Regions from separate parts of the Homo sapiens genome. Here region 2 is linked to region 1. A link means that fine-mapping ties the variant in region 1 to the plasma level of a protein whose gene starts in the linked region. Region 1 holds a variant in brackets. A gene starts in the other region. All regions are shown on their reverse strands.

Region 1 (5,382 bases):
GTTATGCCTGATTCACTGATAATGTAAACACCTCTTTTCATGCTGGATGCCAAACAGGCCTTTGATCAACACTCTTTTGGCTTCGACTAACTTTCTCTCTTTTAAAAAATCTTCACATTTTTTTAAGGTACTGCTAGTTGAACAGCTCTTCCGCAAGGAGTTCCAACCATTTTTGAAGAAATGGTATCGTGTTATTGGATTAAGTGGTGATACCCAACTGAAAATATCATTTCCAGAAGTTGTCAAGTCCTGTGATATTATTATCAGTACAGCTCAAATCCTTGAAAACTCCCTCTTAAACTTGGAAAATGGAGAAGATGCTGGTGTTCAATTGTCAGGTCAGTTTAAGTGTTTATTTTTTTAAAAAAATTAATAGTAATATTGATGATAACAAAGGCTGTATTTGTTAATTTTTTAAATGTTCGTGGCTTAAATTGTCTTTTATTGCTTATGGTTTTATTAAAATCCTTCTACTTCCTGGAGGAAACAAAAAAAGTAAGTTTTTAATTAGACCACTTTATTCTGCATAAGAATACCATTATTAAGGCAAGCACTCGCTGGACTTTCCATTTATTCTGACAAGTTCCTTTATTTGCTATTGAATGTTGTTAGATCTGCTTCCCTTTCCCATAGAATAAAAATACAAATCTTGTCTTTTATGGGGTATAGGATGAGAAGGTAGGAGAAAGAATGGAAAAAAATAAAAATAATTTATAATAACTAAATGCAATGTTAAAACAAGGCAAAATTTTCCCTCTTTAAATAGTGTGTTTTTCACTTGATGTAATAAAAATAAAATTCACCAACCTAAAATTAAATATTTTATTAAAGAACAAAAGTAAAATCCTGAGATTTGTTTTGTAATAAGCCAGGGTGTGAATTCCACATCTAACGCTTTTTAGCTCTGTAAACTTTCTGAATCTTATCTATTAAAGAAGGAGAATGTCTAACAGGGAGTTTCATGATTAGTATATACGAACGTCTGTGTGTACAGGTGCTAGTATAGTTAGATTTCCCTCCTAAAAACTGAAAGTGGACTGCTCTTGTGTCGTGCCCAAGAGAAGGCATCCCCAAGGCAGCTCAATTACTGGTCTAAAGCTATTTTCTCACTGTAGTGTGCTGATATGGAGAAATGAACTCTTTGAATTTTCTTTTAAGACTTTTCCCTCATTATCATTGATGAATGTCATCACACCAACAAAGAAGCAGTGTATAATAACATCATGAGGCATTATTTGATGCAGAAGTTGAAAAACAATAGACTCAAGAAAGAAAACAAACCAGTGATTCCCCTTCCTCAGATACTGGGACTAACAGCTTCACCTGGTGTTGGAGGGGCCACGAAGCAAGCCAAAGCTGAAGAACACATTTTAAAAGTAAGTCATAATTTTATGTATAACCAATGAAAGCAAAGCTAAAACAAATGCCAGGACTTCTTGGTCTTATTAAATAAGATTGAGTTCAAGTGCTGTGATCATCAGTTAAGTGAAATCTGTTTGCTTTAGTACAATAAATATACTCAGTCTTCTACAGAATACTAATATGCCTTAATAAATATCAATAACACAAAATCATATCATAAAAATGATGGAGAGTGATATAATTAATGGGAAGTTGAGATAAATAGAATGCCTTCTTTTGAACATCTACTCTTATGGTTAAATTTAATGATCTACCTGATATAGAAATATGCATAAACTATGAAAGTTTCTAGTTGTCACACATAATAAAGTCTTACTCCATGAGTTTCAAAACTGCGTATTTTCTGTCCTTCATATGTTATTCTAGGAATCTAGGTAATTCAAATTAAAGGGAAATAGGGATATGAAGATCTTTAAAGATGAGCTTGTCAGCTGCCCCCTAATGGTAACACCACATACAGTGCTACTGTTAATCTTGAGTGTTAAGTAAATCAGAGTAGCCCAAGAAGTATTTTGGTACCAAGGCAATTGCATTTGAATTTTAAGTCCCTTACTTTAAGTTGAATTCAATACAAATTATGTAGAGTAGACACAACATTCAGAGATGCAATTATAGGCTCCAAAATATAATTTATTACTGGGATTAAGGACTAATTCCAATCTAATAATCAAGGAACATGACTAAGGATGCTCCCAGCTTTATGTGTAGATGCCTGCTTTATGTGTAGAAGAAGGTGGTAGTATGATCCACGGATGTCAAGTTGACCTTTGATATGCCTCATGTAACATGGTTATCTCAAAATCATTCTCTGTCAATGATGGTAAATTGTTATACTCTTTCCATGTCAGT[T/C]TTCCACTTGGAAAATGGAATTTAAGGAATGAATATCAATACACCTTTTTCTCTGTTATTACACCAACTTGATTTAGAAGCTCCTTTTTCCTATATTAGGACAAATGTTGCTGATTGTGGGTTAATGAGATCCATAATAAAACAATGTTAAAATGCTATATTTAGCAAGCAATGCTACATATTACTTTCATGAAATTTTATACCACATATTTATGCTACAATTTAATGCTACATATTTTTTACATGAAAAAGAGTTCTACGTTGAATAAAGTGAAAGGGAAAAATAATTGCATAAATATTGAAAAATGTCTCTTTTCCAGCTATGTGCCAATCTTGATGCATTTACTATTAAAACTGTTAAAGAAAACCTTGATCAACTGAAAAACCAAATACAGGAGCCATGCAAGAAGTTTGCCATTGCAGATGCAACCAGAGAAGTATGGGCTTAATGTTTTATATCTATTGATTGACAATACTACATTCAGTAGAAAGATGGCAAAGGCTATTTTATACTGACCATCTGAAAAATATTATTTAAAAATTTTAGCAAACAAGTTTCAGGTTTTTTTTTAATTGATGTTAGGCAGTAAAGCACTACAGTGAATTCTCGCCTCTAGACCTCTTTTAGTTTTCTAATTTACATGAGGAATAGCTTATTCATTGTTTGTACATATGAGTTAAAAGGGACAGTGAGGGGCCATGGGCAGAGGGATGTGTAACTAAGCTGGAGGGGTTATGACAGTTCGTTTTAGCCTTTTTAATTTTCTTCGTGAATTCCAGGATTGATTTTCTGACATTCCACAGAGCCATTTTGTTGCTATCAAATTACATTTGGCAATGATAATGGGAATCCTATCTAATTTGCATACTTGCATATTTACTTTCTTAGGAAAACAGTGCAATGGTAAAGAAGTGAAATATTTACTTTAATGATGCTTTTCTGATGAATTTTTCAGGAATTATAAGAATAAACTGAGAGTCAATTTGGACATTATGGCCAGTAAATTATGTCAATACTTTATTTTGTAAAATTTAGAAAGCATTACAAATTCTGGCCATATGTACTTGATAATACCATTGAAAATAAGAATGTTGGGATCAAATGATATGAAATATGCATAGTAGATAAAACAATGCTTGAAATATAGTAGGCACTAAACCAATGTTAGTAACTAGCCTCCGTATATCTCTTTTTTTAAATTCTGAAAAAGACTGCTATCTACTCCAGCTGCACTAGCACAGTTGAATATATTTTATTCACTTTCCTTTTTTTGTTACTTATTTGGTTTTACTTGATAATTTTAAATGCATGTTTCTACTCATAAAGATTTTTAAAACTAAATTTCTCAGGTACATTTTTTAAAAGAATTTGCCATTTTTTAAACTTACTTTAATTTTTTTATATACCTTGAAGCATAACATACATACAGAAAAGTACAAATTCATATGTGTACTGATTGCTGAATTTTCCTAAACTGAATACACATATGTAAACAAAATCCAAATCAAGAGACAGCACACTGCCAGTATCCTAAAAGCTCCTGGCTCCCCCTTCCAGTCACCATGCCCCAGGAATCACTACTATCTTGACTTCTAAAACAAAAAATGAGTTTTCACTGATTCTGAACTTTATATAAATGGAATCATATAGCATGCACTCCTTTATTTCTGGCTTTATTCAGACTCTACTTCAACTTTTTATTTTGGTCGAAATAATACTGAAACCAGTTTTACAAAGGAGGAATGTTTCTTAAATTACACTGTAAGCTTTCTAAATAATTGTGGCATTAATGCAATATGTGTTTTCTAAGTTACCTTTAACATACAAGGTTTATATAATTCATTAACTTTACTTTTGTTAACCTTTTAAGTTGGAGATTCCAGCAGAGGTAACAGGGTGTTGGTGTGGGTGTGGCTTGATGGCAGGCTTAAAAGAGAAGCTGACAAAAATAAATGTACAGACAAGTGATGGGACACTAACCTGTTACTTTGTCTAAACAAAGATGAATCAGATTTATTATAACCTAGAAATTATTCTAACAAAGATAATGTTATTCCTTTAACAATAAGAATACATAAGAATAAGTGTGTACTTTATTTTTAGGATCCATTTAAAGAGAAACTTCTAGAAATAATGACAAGGATTCAAACTTATTGTCAAATGAGTCCAATGTCAGATTTTGGAACTCAACCCTATGAACAATGGGCCATTCAAATGGAAAAAAAAGGTAATTTAGGTTTGGACCTAACACTTAGTTTATCCCATGTTTATACCAAGATTTTAGATGACTATATCACAGATTCCCCAAAAAATGGAAAGCAAAAGTAGTTCCAAATAGAATTTCTGTGTTCTCTGTAGGACAAGCATAATAAACATGTTCTAATTCCTTTTCTAAGGAGAGAGATTCCAATGCTATCCAATTTTCTCTTTGTCTCCAGAGTCTTGAGATAAACTTTAATAGCTCTGTCTCCAAAGGCAAACTCAACTAATATATTTTCATGCCATTTCTCTGTGCATCAGCTACATGTTTTTGCTGAGGCAGAACTCAAGCAGCAAGTCTAGGAGTTGGAAAACTTGCCCTGTTTCAGAGCTCAGGACACATTTTGAGCCTTAACTTGCCCATTTTAAAACCAAGGTGAAGCCAGTTTTGCAGTTAGTAACATATATTCAAGTCCATGGCACAATTTTAGGGGGTTTATATGCTTATTATTTCACTTACATAATATATTTTTTCACAGCTGCAAAAGAAGGAAATCGCAAAGAACGTGTTTGTGCAGAACATTTGAGGAAGTACAATGAGGCCCTACAAATTAATGACACAATTCGAATGATAGATGCGTATACTCATCTTGAAACTTTCTATAATGAAGAGAAAGATAAGAAGTTTGCAGTCATAGAAGATGATAGTGATGAGGGTGGTGATGATGAGTATTGTGATGGTGATGAAGATGAGGATGATTTAAAGAAACCTTTGAAACTGGATGAAACAGATAGATTTCTCATGACTTTATTTTTTGGTAAGATTCAAAGTAACATATACTGGTGTCATTCATTTACCTTTTCAACATGAACTTACTGCTTCTCATAAGCTCTCCAAAAAGAGAAATATC
Region 2 (5,382 bases), not on the chromosome of region 1:
TCAAGCGATTCTCCTGCCTCAGCTTCCCGAGTAGCTGGGATTACAGGTATGCATCACCACACCCGGCTAATTTTTGTATTTTTAGTAGAGATGGGGTTTCTCCATGTTGGTCAGGTTGGTCTCAAACTCCCGACCTCAAGTGATCTGCCCGCCTTGGCCTCCCAAAGTGCTAGGATTACAGGCCTGAGCCCACGGAGGCTGGCCTTTTTTTTTTTTTTTTTTTTTTTTTTTTTTTTTTTTTTAAGATGGAGTTTCTCTCTTGGTGGCCAGGCTGGAGTGCAGTGATGTGATCTCGGCTCACCACAACCTCCACCTCCCGGGTTCAAGCATTTCTCTTGCCTCAGCCTCCCGAGTAGCTGGGATTACGGGGTCATGCCACAACTCCCGGCTAATTTTTGTACTTTTAGTAGAGACAGGGTTTCACCATGTTGGCTAAGCTGGTCTCAAATTCCTGACCTCAAGTGATCTGCCTGCCTCAGCCTCCCAAAGCACTGGGATTACAGGTGTGAGCCACCATGCCTGGCAGTACACACACATACTTGCACACGTGTGGGCATGAACATGCACAGTTACGCACCTTTGGTTAGACTCAAGTTCAGGCAGACACTCATTTCCATACAAATACATACATAGTCACAGAAGTCAGGCACACACAAATATACACAACGAGTCACAAATTTTGCCTGCATCACCCAGACATCCACACCCAGTCACAGACCCACAATCACACACACACTCAAGGATTCACCTATCACAGAAGGTTCCAATTCCTTGTTGTTTATTTGTGCATAATGTATAAAAGTAAAACAATAAACTCAGCCCTATGTCTCAGTCAGGGCTGCAGCTTCATAAATAAAGGGTGAGAGGAAATAAATTAAGGAAGGAGTAGGGCTCAGCGCATAAATAAGGTGTGGGGTGTCAGGTGGACTCAGGGTGGGTTGACGTTCTCAGACACAGGTTCCCATCGGCCACATATTTGAGGTCTCGCGTGAGGAGGCGGAAGAGGTTGAAGGTGACAGATGCCTCCAGGCAGCCAGCGGACTCCTGTAGGGGAGGAGGGGATGGGTCAGGGGCTGTCCAGGGTCTGGGCTCCTATTGGCTCCCCAGACCCTGGTCCTTCTCTTCCTGGGTCACTCACCTTTTTGGGGGCCTCCTGGAGCCGGTGCAGCCAGTGGTGGAGGCGGCCCCGGGGCCTGGGCCCTGCTGTGGGCTGAGGCTGGATCTGTGGGCAGAAGAGGGCGGTGTGTGAGGCGGAGCCTGGGCCACCACAGGGGAAGGATGCTGCTCAGAGCCCACAGACCTGGGTGCCCGGGCCCCAAGGACTCACACAGGCCTGGAGCTGGGAGAGGATGTGGTGCAGGGTGTGAAGGGGCTGGTCTAGGACGTCCTCCAGGGCTGGGCCAGCAGCGGCCTCCAGGACCTTCAGCGTCAGGGCCAGCTCAGCCTCCAAGGCCACAGGGCGCTCCCTCACCTGAGGAGAGGTGAGAAAGAGCAGGTGAGGGAGAACAGGCAAGAAGACCCAGTTAGTGGGGACAGGTAGGCAGTCCTGGGGAAGGTCGGTGACACAGTGCATGTGGTGGGGACAGGTGAGGGGTCTGGGGAGAAGGAGACAGGAGGGGGAAGACATGAGGAAGGATACAGGTGAGGCAGGATGGTCAAGGAGGCAGGTGAGGGGATAAGTGAAATGGAGACAAATGAAAGGGGACTTACGGGGGTCACAGAAGTTCTCTGGGGCGGGGTGGGGACGGGTGAGGAGAAAGCAGGTTGGGGGCACAGTAAGAGAGGGACAGTTGCATGCACAGAGAAGAAGGGTAGGGCTGGGTGTGGTGGCTCACGCCTGTAATCCCAGCACTTTGGGAGGCCGAGGCGGGTGGATCACCTGAGGTCAGGATTTCGAGACCAAGCCTGGCCAACATAGTGAAACCCCGTCTCTGCTAAAAATACAAAAATTAGCTGGGCATCATGGCACATGCCTGTAATCCCAGCTACTCGGGAGGCTGAGGCAGGATAATTGCTTGAACCCGGGAGGCAGAGGTTGCAGTGAACCGAGATCATGCCACTGCACTCCAGCCTGGGCCATAGAGCAAGACTCTGTCTCAAAAAAAAAAAAAAAAAAAAAAAAAAGAGAAGGGTGGATGAGGGGGGAGCATGAGCTGGATGAATGTCAGTGAGAGATAATGAGGGACAGGTGACAGAGGCAGGTGAGAGGGAGAGGGGGTCAGTGTTGGGAACAGACAGGGAGAAGTGGAGCAGGACGAAAGGCACAGGTGGGCGACAGACTGGAGACATTTGGGAGAGAAATGAAGAGTGAGAGTGGAAGTGACAGGGACAGGTGAGCGAGCTAGGGAAGTGGGGCCGATGGGAGATGATAAAAGGGACCCAGGGGAAGGACAGAGTCAAGAGAGCAGTTTTGAAGTGGCAGGGGCACAGGACAGGTGAGGAGAGGTCCAAGAGAGTGAAGGACAAGGGAAACAAAGAAGGCTAAGGGGCCACTTAAGAAGAGGGGGGAGAGGGTCAAGGGAAGGGTGAAGGGGGCCTGACTTTCAGCTCACCTGGAGAAGCCTCAGGTCCCAATTCCCGGGGAAGACAGGAGAGCTGCAACTCCAGTTTTTCAGCTTGAGTGACTCTTCCTAGAGAGCAAGGGCAGGGGTTAGCCCACAGCAGGATGGCTGGAAGCTAGCTCATAGCAGCAAGGATGAAGTTGGCCTGACAGCATGGGTTTAACCCAGTGCAGAAAGGATAGAGGTTTGCCATAGTTGGAAGGCTAGAGGCTAGCCCACAGTAGAAGGGCAGTAATTGGGACACCCGTAGAAGTGGTTCATCCACAGCAACAGGAACTCACCAAGGCGTCCCTGGCCTTCTTGAAGCTCGCTAGCTCCTGTGGTGACAGAGATTTGAACCTGCCAATGTGGCAGCCCTTCCCAGTTGTGGTGGGCTTGGAAGTGGGGACAGGGCCTGCCACGGCCAAGCCTAGCACCAAAGTCACCAGCACCACGGTCCAAGCTGCAGCCATGGCTAAATCGCAACTGCTTCCCCAGCGGCATGGCTCTGCTTTTTAGCCACGCAAAATGGGCAATCCAAGATGATGTGTGTAAAGTGAAAAGGTAATTGGAAATGAGAATTTCCACTTTGACTTAAGAGGCATGAGTGGGCGGGGCCCGTCTGGGAGCCTGATGAGGGAACAGGTGTGGGCAGGGCCAAGTGAGCTGGGAGCTGCATCAAGAAGGAAAGAGAAACTGAAATCCTTAGAACTCCCTGGGCAGCTTTCAGCCAACTGGCCTCAGGGAGTCCCTGACGGAGGCTGAGATTAGGGATAAGGCTACCTGAGTGGCAGAGAGGAAGCTTCTTTTTTATTCTAAATTAGCCAGGTGTGGTGGCATGCGCCTGTGGTCTCAGCTACTCAGGAGGCCGAGGCATGAGAATCACTTGAACCCGGGAGGCGGAGGTTGCAGTGAGCCAAGATCGTGCCACTGCACTCCAGCCTGGGTGATGGAGTGAGATCCTGTTTCAAAAAAAAAAAAGCTTGTTTTTTATTTTATTGTTATTATTATTTTTTGAGACGTAGTTTTGCTCTTGTTGCCCAGGCTGGAGTGCAATGGTGCAATCTTGGCTCACTGCAACTTCTGCCTCCCGAGTTGAAGCGATTCTCCTGCCTCAGCCTCCTAAGTAGTTGGGATTACAGGTGCATGCCATCACGCCTGGCTAGTTTTTGTATTTTTAGTAGAGACTGGGTTTTACTATGTTGGTCACGCTGGCTTCGAACTCCTGACTTCAGATGATCTGCCTGCCTTGGCCTCCCAAAGTGCTGGGATTACAGGCGTGAGCCACCACCTTACTTTATTATTTATTTATTTATTTTTGTAGAGATAGGGGTCTCACTATGTTGCCCAGGCCAGTCTTGAACTCCTGGCCTTAAGCCATCCTCCTGCTTCAGCCTCGCAAAGTGCTAGTATTAAAGGCATGAGCCACTGCTCCTGGCCAAGAAGGAGCTTCTGCCATTGGTTTAAGAATGTCCCATTAACTAATTTCAGTTCATGCTCCTAATGTTTCTCTGAGTAGTTATTTTTATAATTGTGATGGTTAATTTTAGGTGTCACCTTGACTGGTTAAGTTTATCAGATAGCTGGTGATGCGTTAATTCTGGGTATGACTCTGGGGTGTTTCCAGAAGAGATTGGCATTTGAATCAATGGACTGAGTAAGGAAGACCCGTTGTTACCCAATGTGGTGGGCACCATCCAATTGGCCGAGGGCCTGAATAGAACAAAAAGGCAGAGGAAAGGAGAATTTGCTCTCTCTTATGAGCTGGGACACCCTGCACCTGCCCTTAAACATCAGAACTCCAGGCTCTTTGGTCTTTGAATGCTGGGATGTGCAGCTGGGCATGGTGGCTCACGCCTGTAATCCCAGCAGTTTGGGAGGCTGAGGCAGGTGAATCACTTGAGGTCAGGAGTTCGAGACCAGCCTGGCCAACATGGTGAAACCCCATCTCTACTAAAAATATAAAAATCAGCCAGGCGTGGTGGCACAGGCCTGTAGTCCCAGCTACTTGGGAGGCTGAGGCAGGAGTATCGCTTGAACCCTGGAGGCGGAGGCTGCAGTGAGCTGAGATCATGTCACTGCACTCCAGCCTGGTCAACAGAGTGAGACTCCATCTCAGAAAAAAAAAAAATGCTGGGACTTGCACTAGCTACCCCCTAAGTCCTGAGGCTTTTATTCTGGAACTGAGCTGCACTACAAGCTTCCCTGGTTCTCCAGCTTGCAGATGGCCTGTTGTGGAACTTCTTAGCCTCCCTAATTGTCTGAGCCAATTCCCCTAATAAATCCCCTCCTATCTCTCTCTCATCTATCTAGTCTCTCTCTCTCTCTCTCTCTCTCTCTCTCTCTATCTAGTCTATCTCTCTCATCTATCTAGTCTATATCTCTCTATCTATCATCTATTTATCCAAACATCCTATTTGTTCTGTCTCTCTGGAGAACCCTGACTAATACAATAATCATGCCCATTTTACTAGTGAGATAACTGAGGCATAGGAAGGCAAAGTGACTTGCCTAAGGTCCCACAGTGGGATAGAGGCAGAAATGGGGTATGATGAGTCCTATGTACTTGCTCCCTATTCCATATGCAGCCCAGGTAGAAGATGAGAACCTCTGGGGGTAGCAGGCCCACTTCTCCTTTCTGTCCCTCTGGGTAGCATGAGAGGGGTAGGGAACTCCTTATTCGCTGGGGGCAAGCGCATTTCCTGGGGACTGGAGGGGCTGCCTGGAGAGAAGGCAGGCGGTGAGTCTGGTTGCCTTGCTATCATCATCCCTGCAGTAATAGTAATTGTGTAGCAGGTAAGAAACTGCTCTGATGTGCAGACATTTCCTATTTTCACTCCTT

Which allele goes with the higher level. Alleles are on the strand shown, and positions count from the first base shown. The strength of an association depends on the size of the effect and on how common the allele is.
With allele T in place of C in region 1, the plasma level of the protein whose gene starts at base 3,028 in region 2 is higher (weak association).

What was found. A credible set is the group of variants that fine-mapping cannot tell apart. PIP is the posterior inclusion probability: the model's chance that the variant is causal. The UK Biobank Pharma Proteomics Project read protein levels with antibody pairs (Olink). The fine-mapping took linkage between variants from a reference panel, not from the people measured, so its PIPs are less certain.
Region 2: IFNL1 starts here. The variant in region 1 is the best candidate, but not a certain one, in a credible set for the plasma level of the IFNL1 protein (UK Biobank, PIP 0.80).

What each region holds. Positions count from the first base shown.
Region 1 is chr2:162,277,322-162,282,703 of GRCh38, reverse strand. It overlaps IFIH1 (interferon induced with helicase C domain 1), which reads left to right. Exons shown (of 16, transcript NM_022168.4): 6 at 128-338; 7 at 1,159-1,376; 8 at 2,592-2,708; 9 at 4,376-4,499; 10 at 5,011-5,289. Among named protein-coding and RNA genes, the nearest start is that of FAP, 37 kb to the right of the region's middle. The variant T/C (reference allele first, on the strand shown) is at 2,272.
Region 2 is chr19:39,294,053-39,299,434 of GRCh38, reverse strand. It overlaps IFNL1 (interferon lambda 1), which reads right to left and starts at 3,028. Exons shown (of 5, transcript NM_172140.2): 1 at 2,843-3,028; 2 at 2,553-2,630; 3 at 1,328-1,471; 4 at 1,139-1,222; 5 at 762-1,044. The coding sequence starts at 3,013. The coding sequence ends at 919.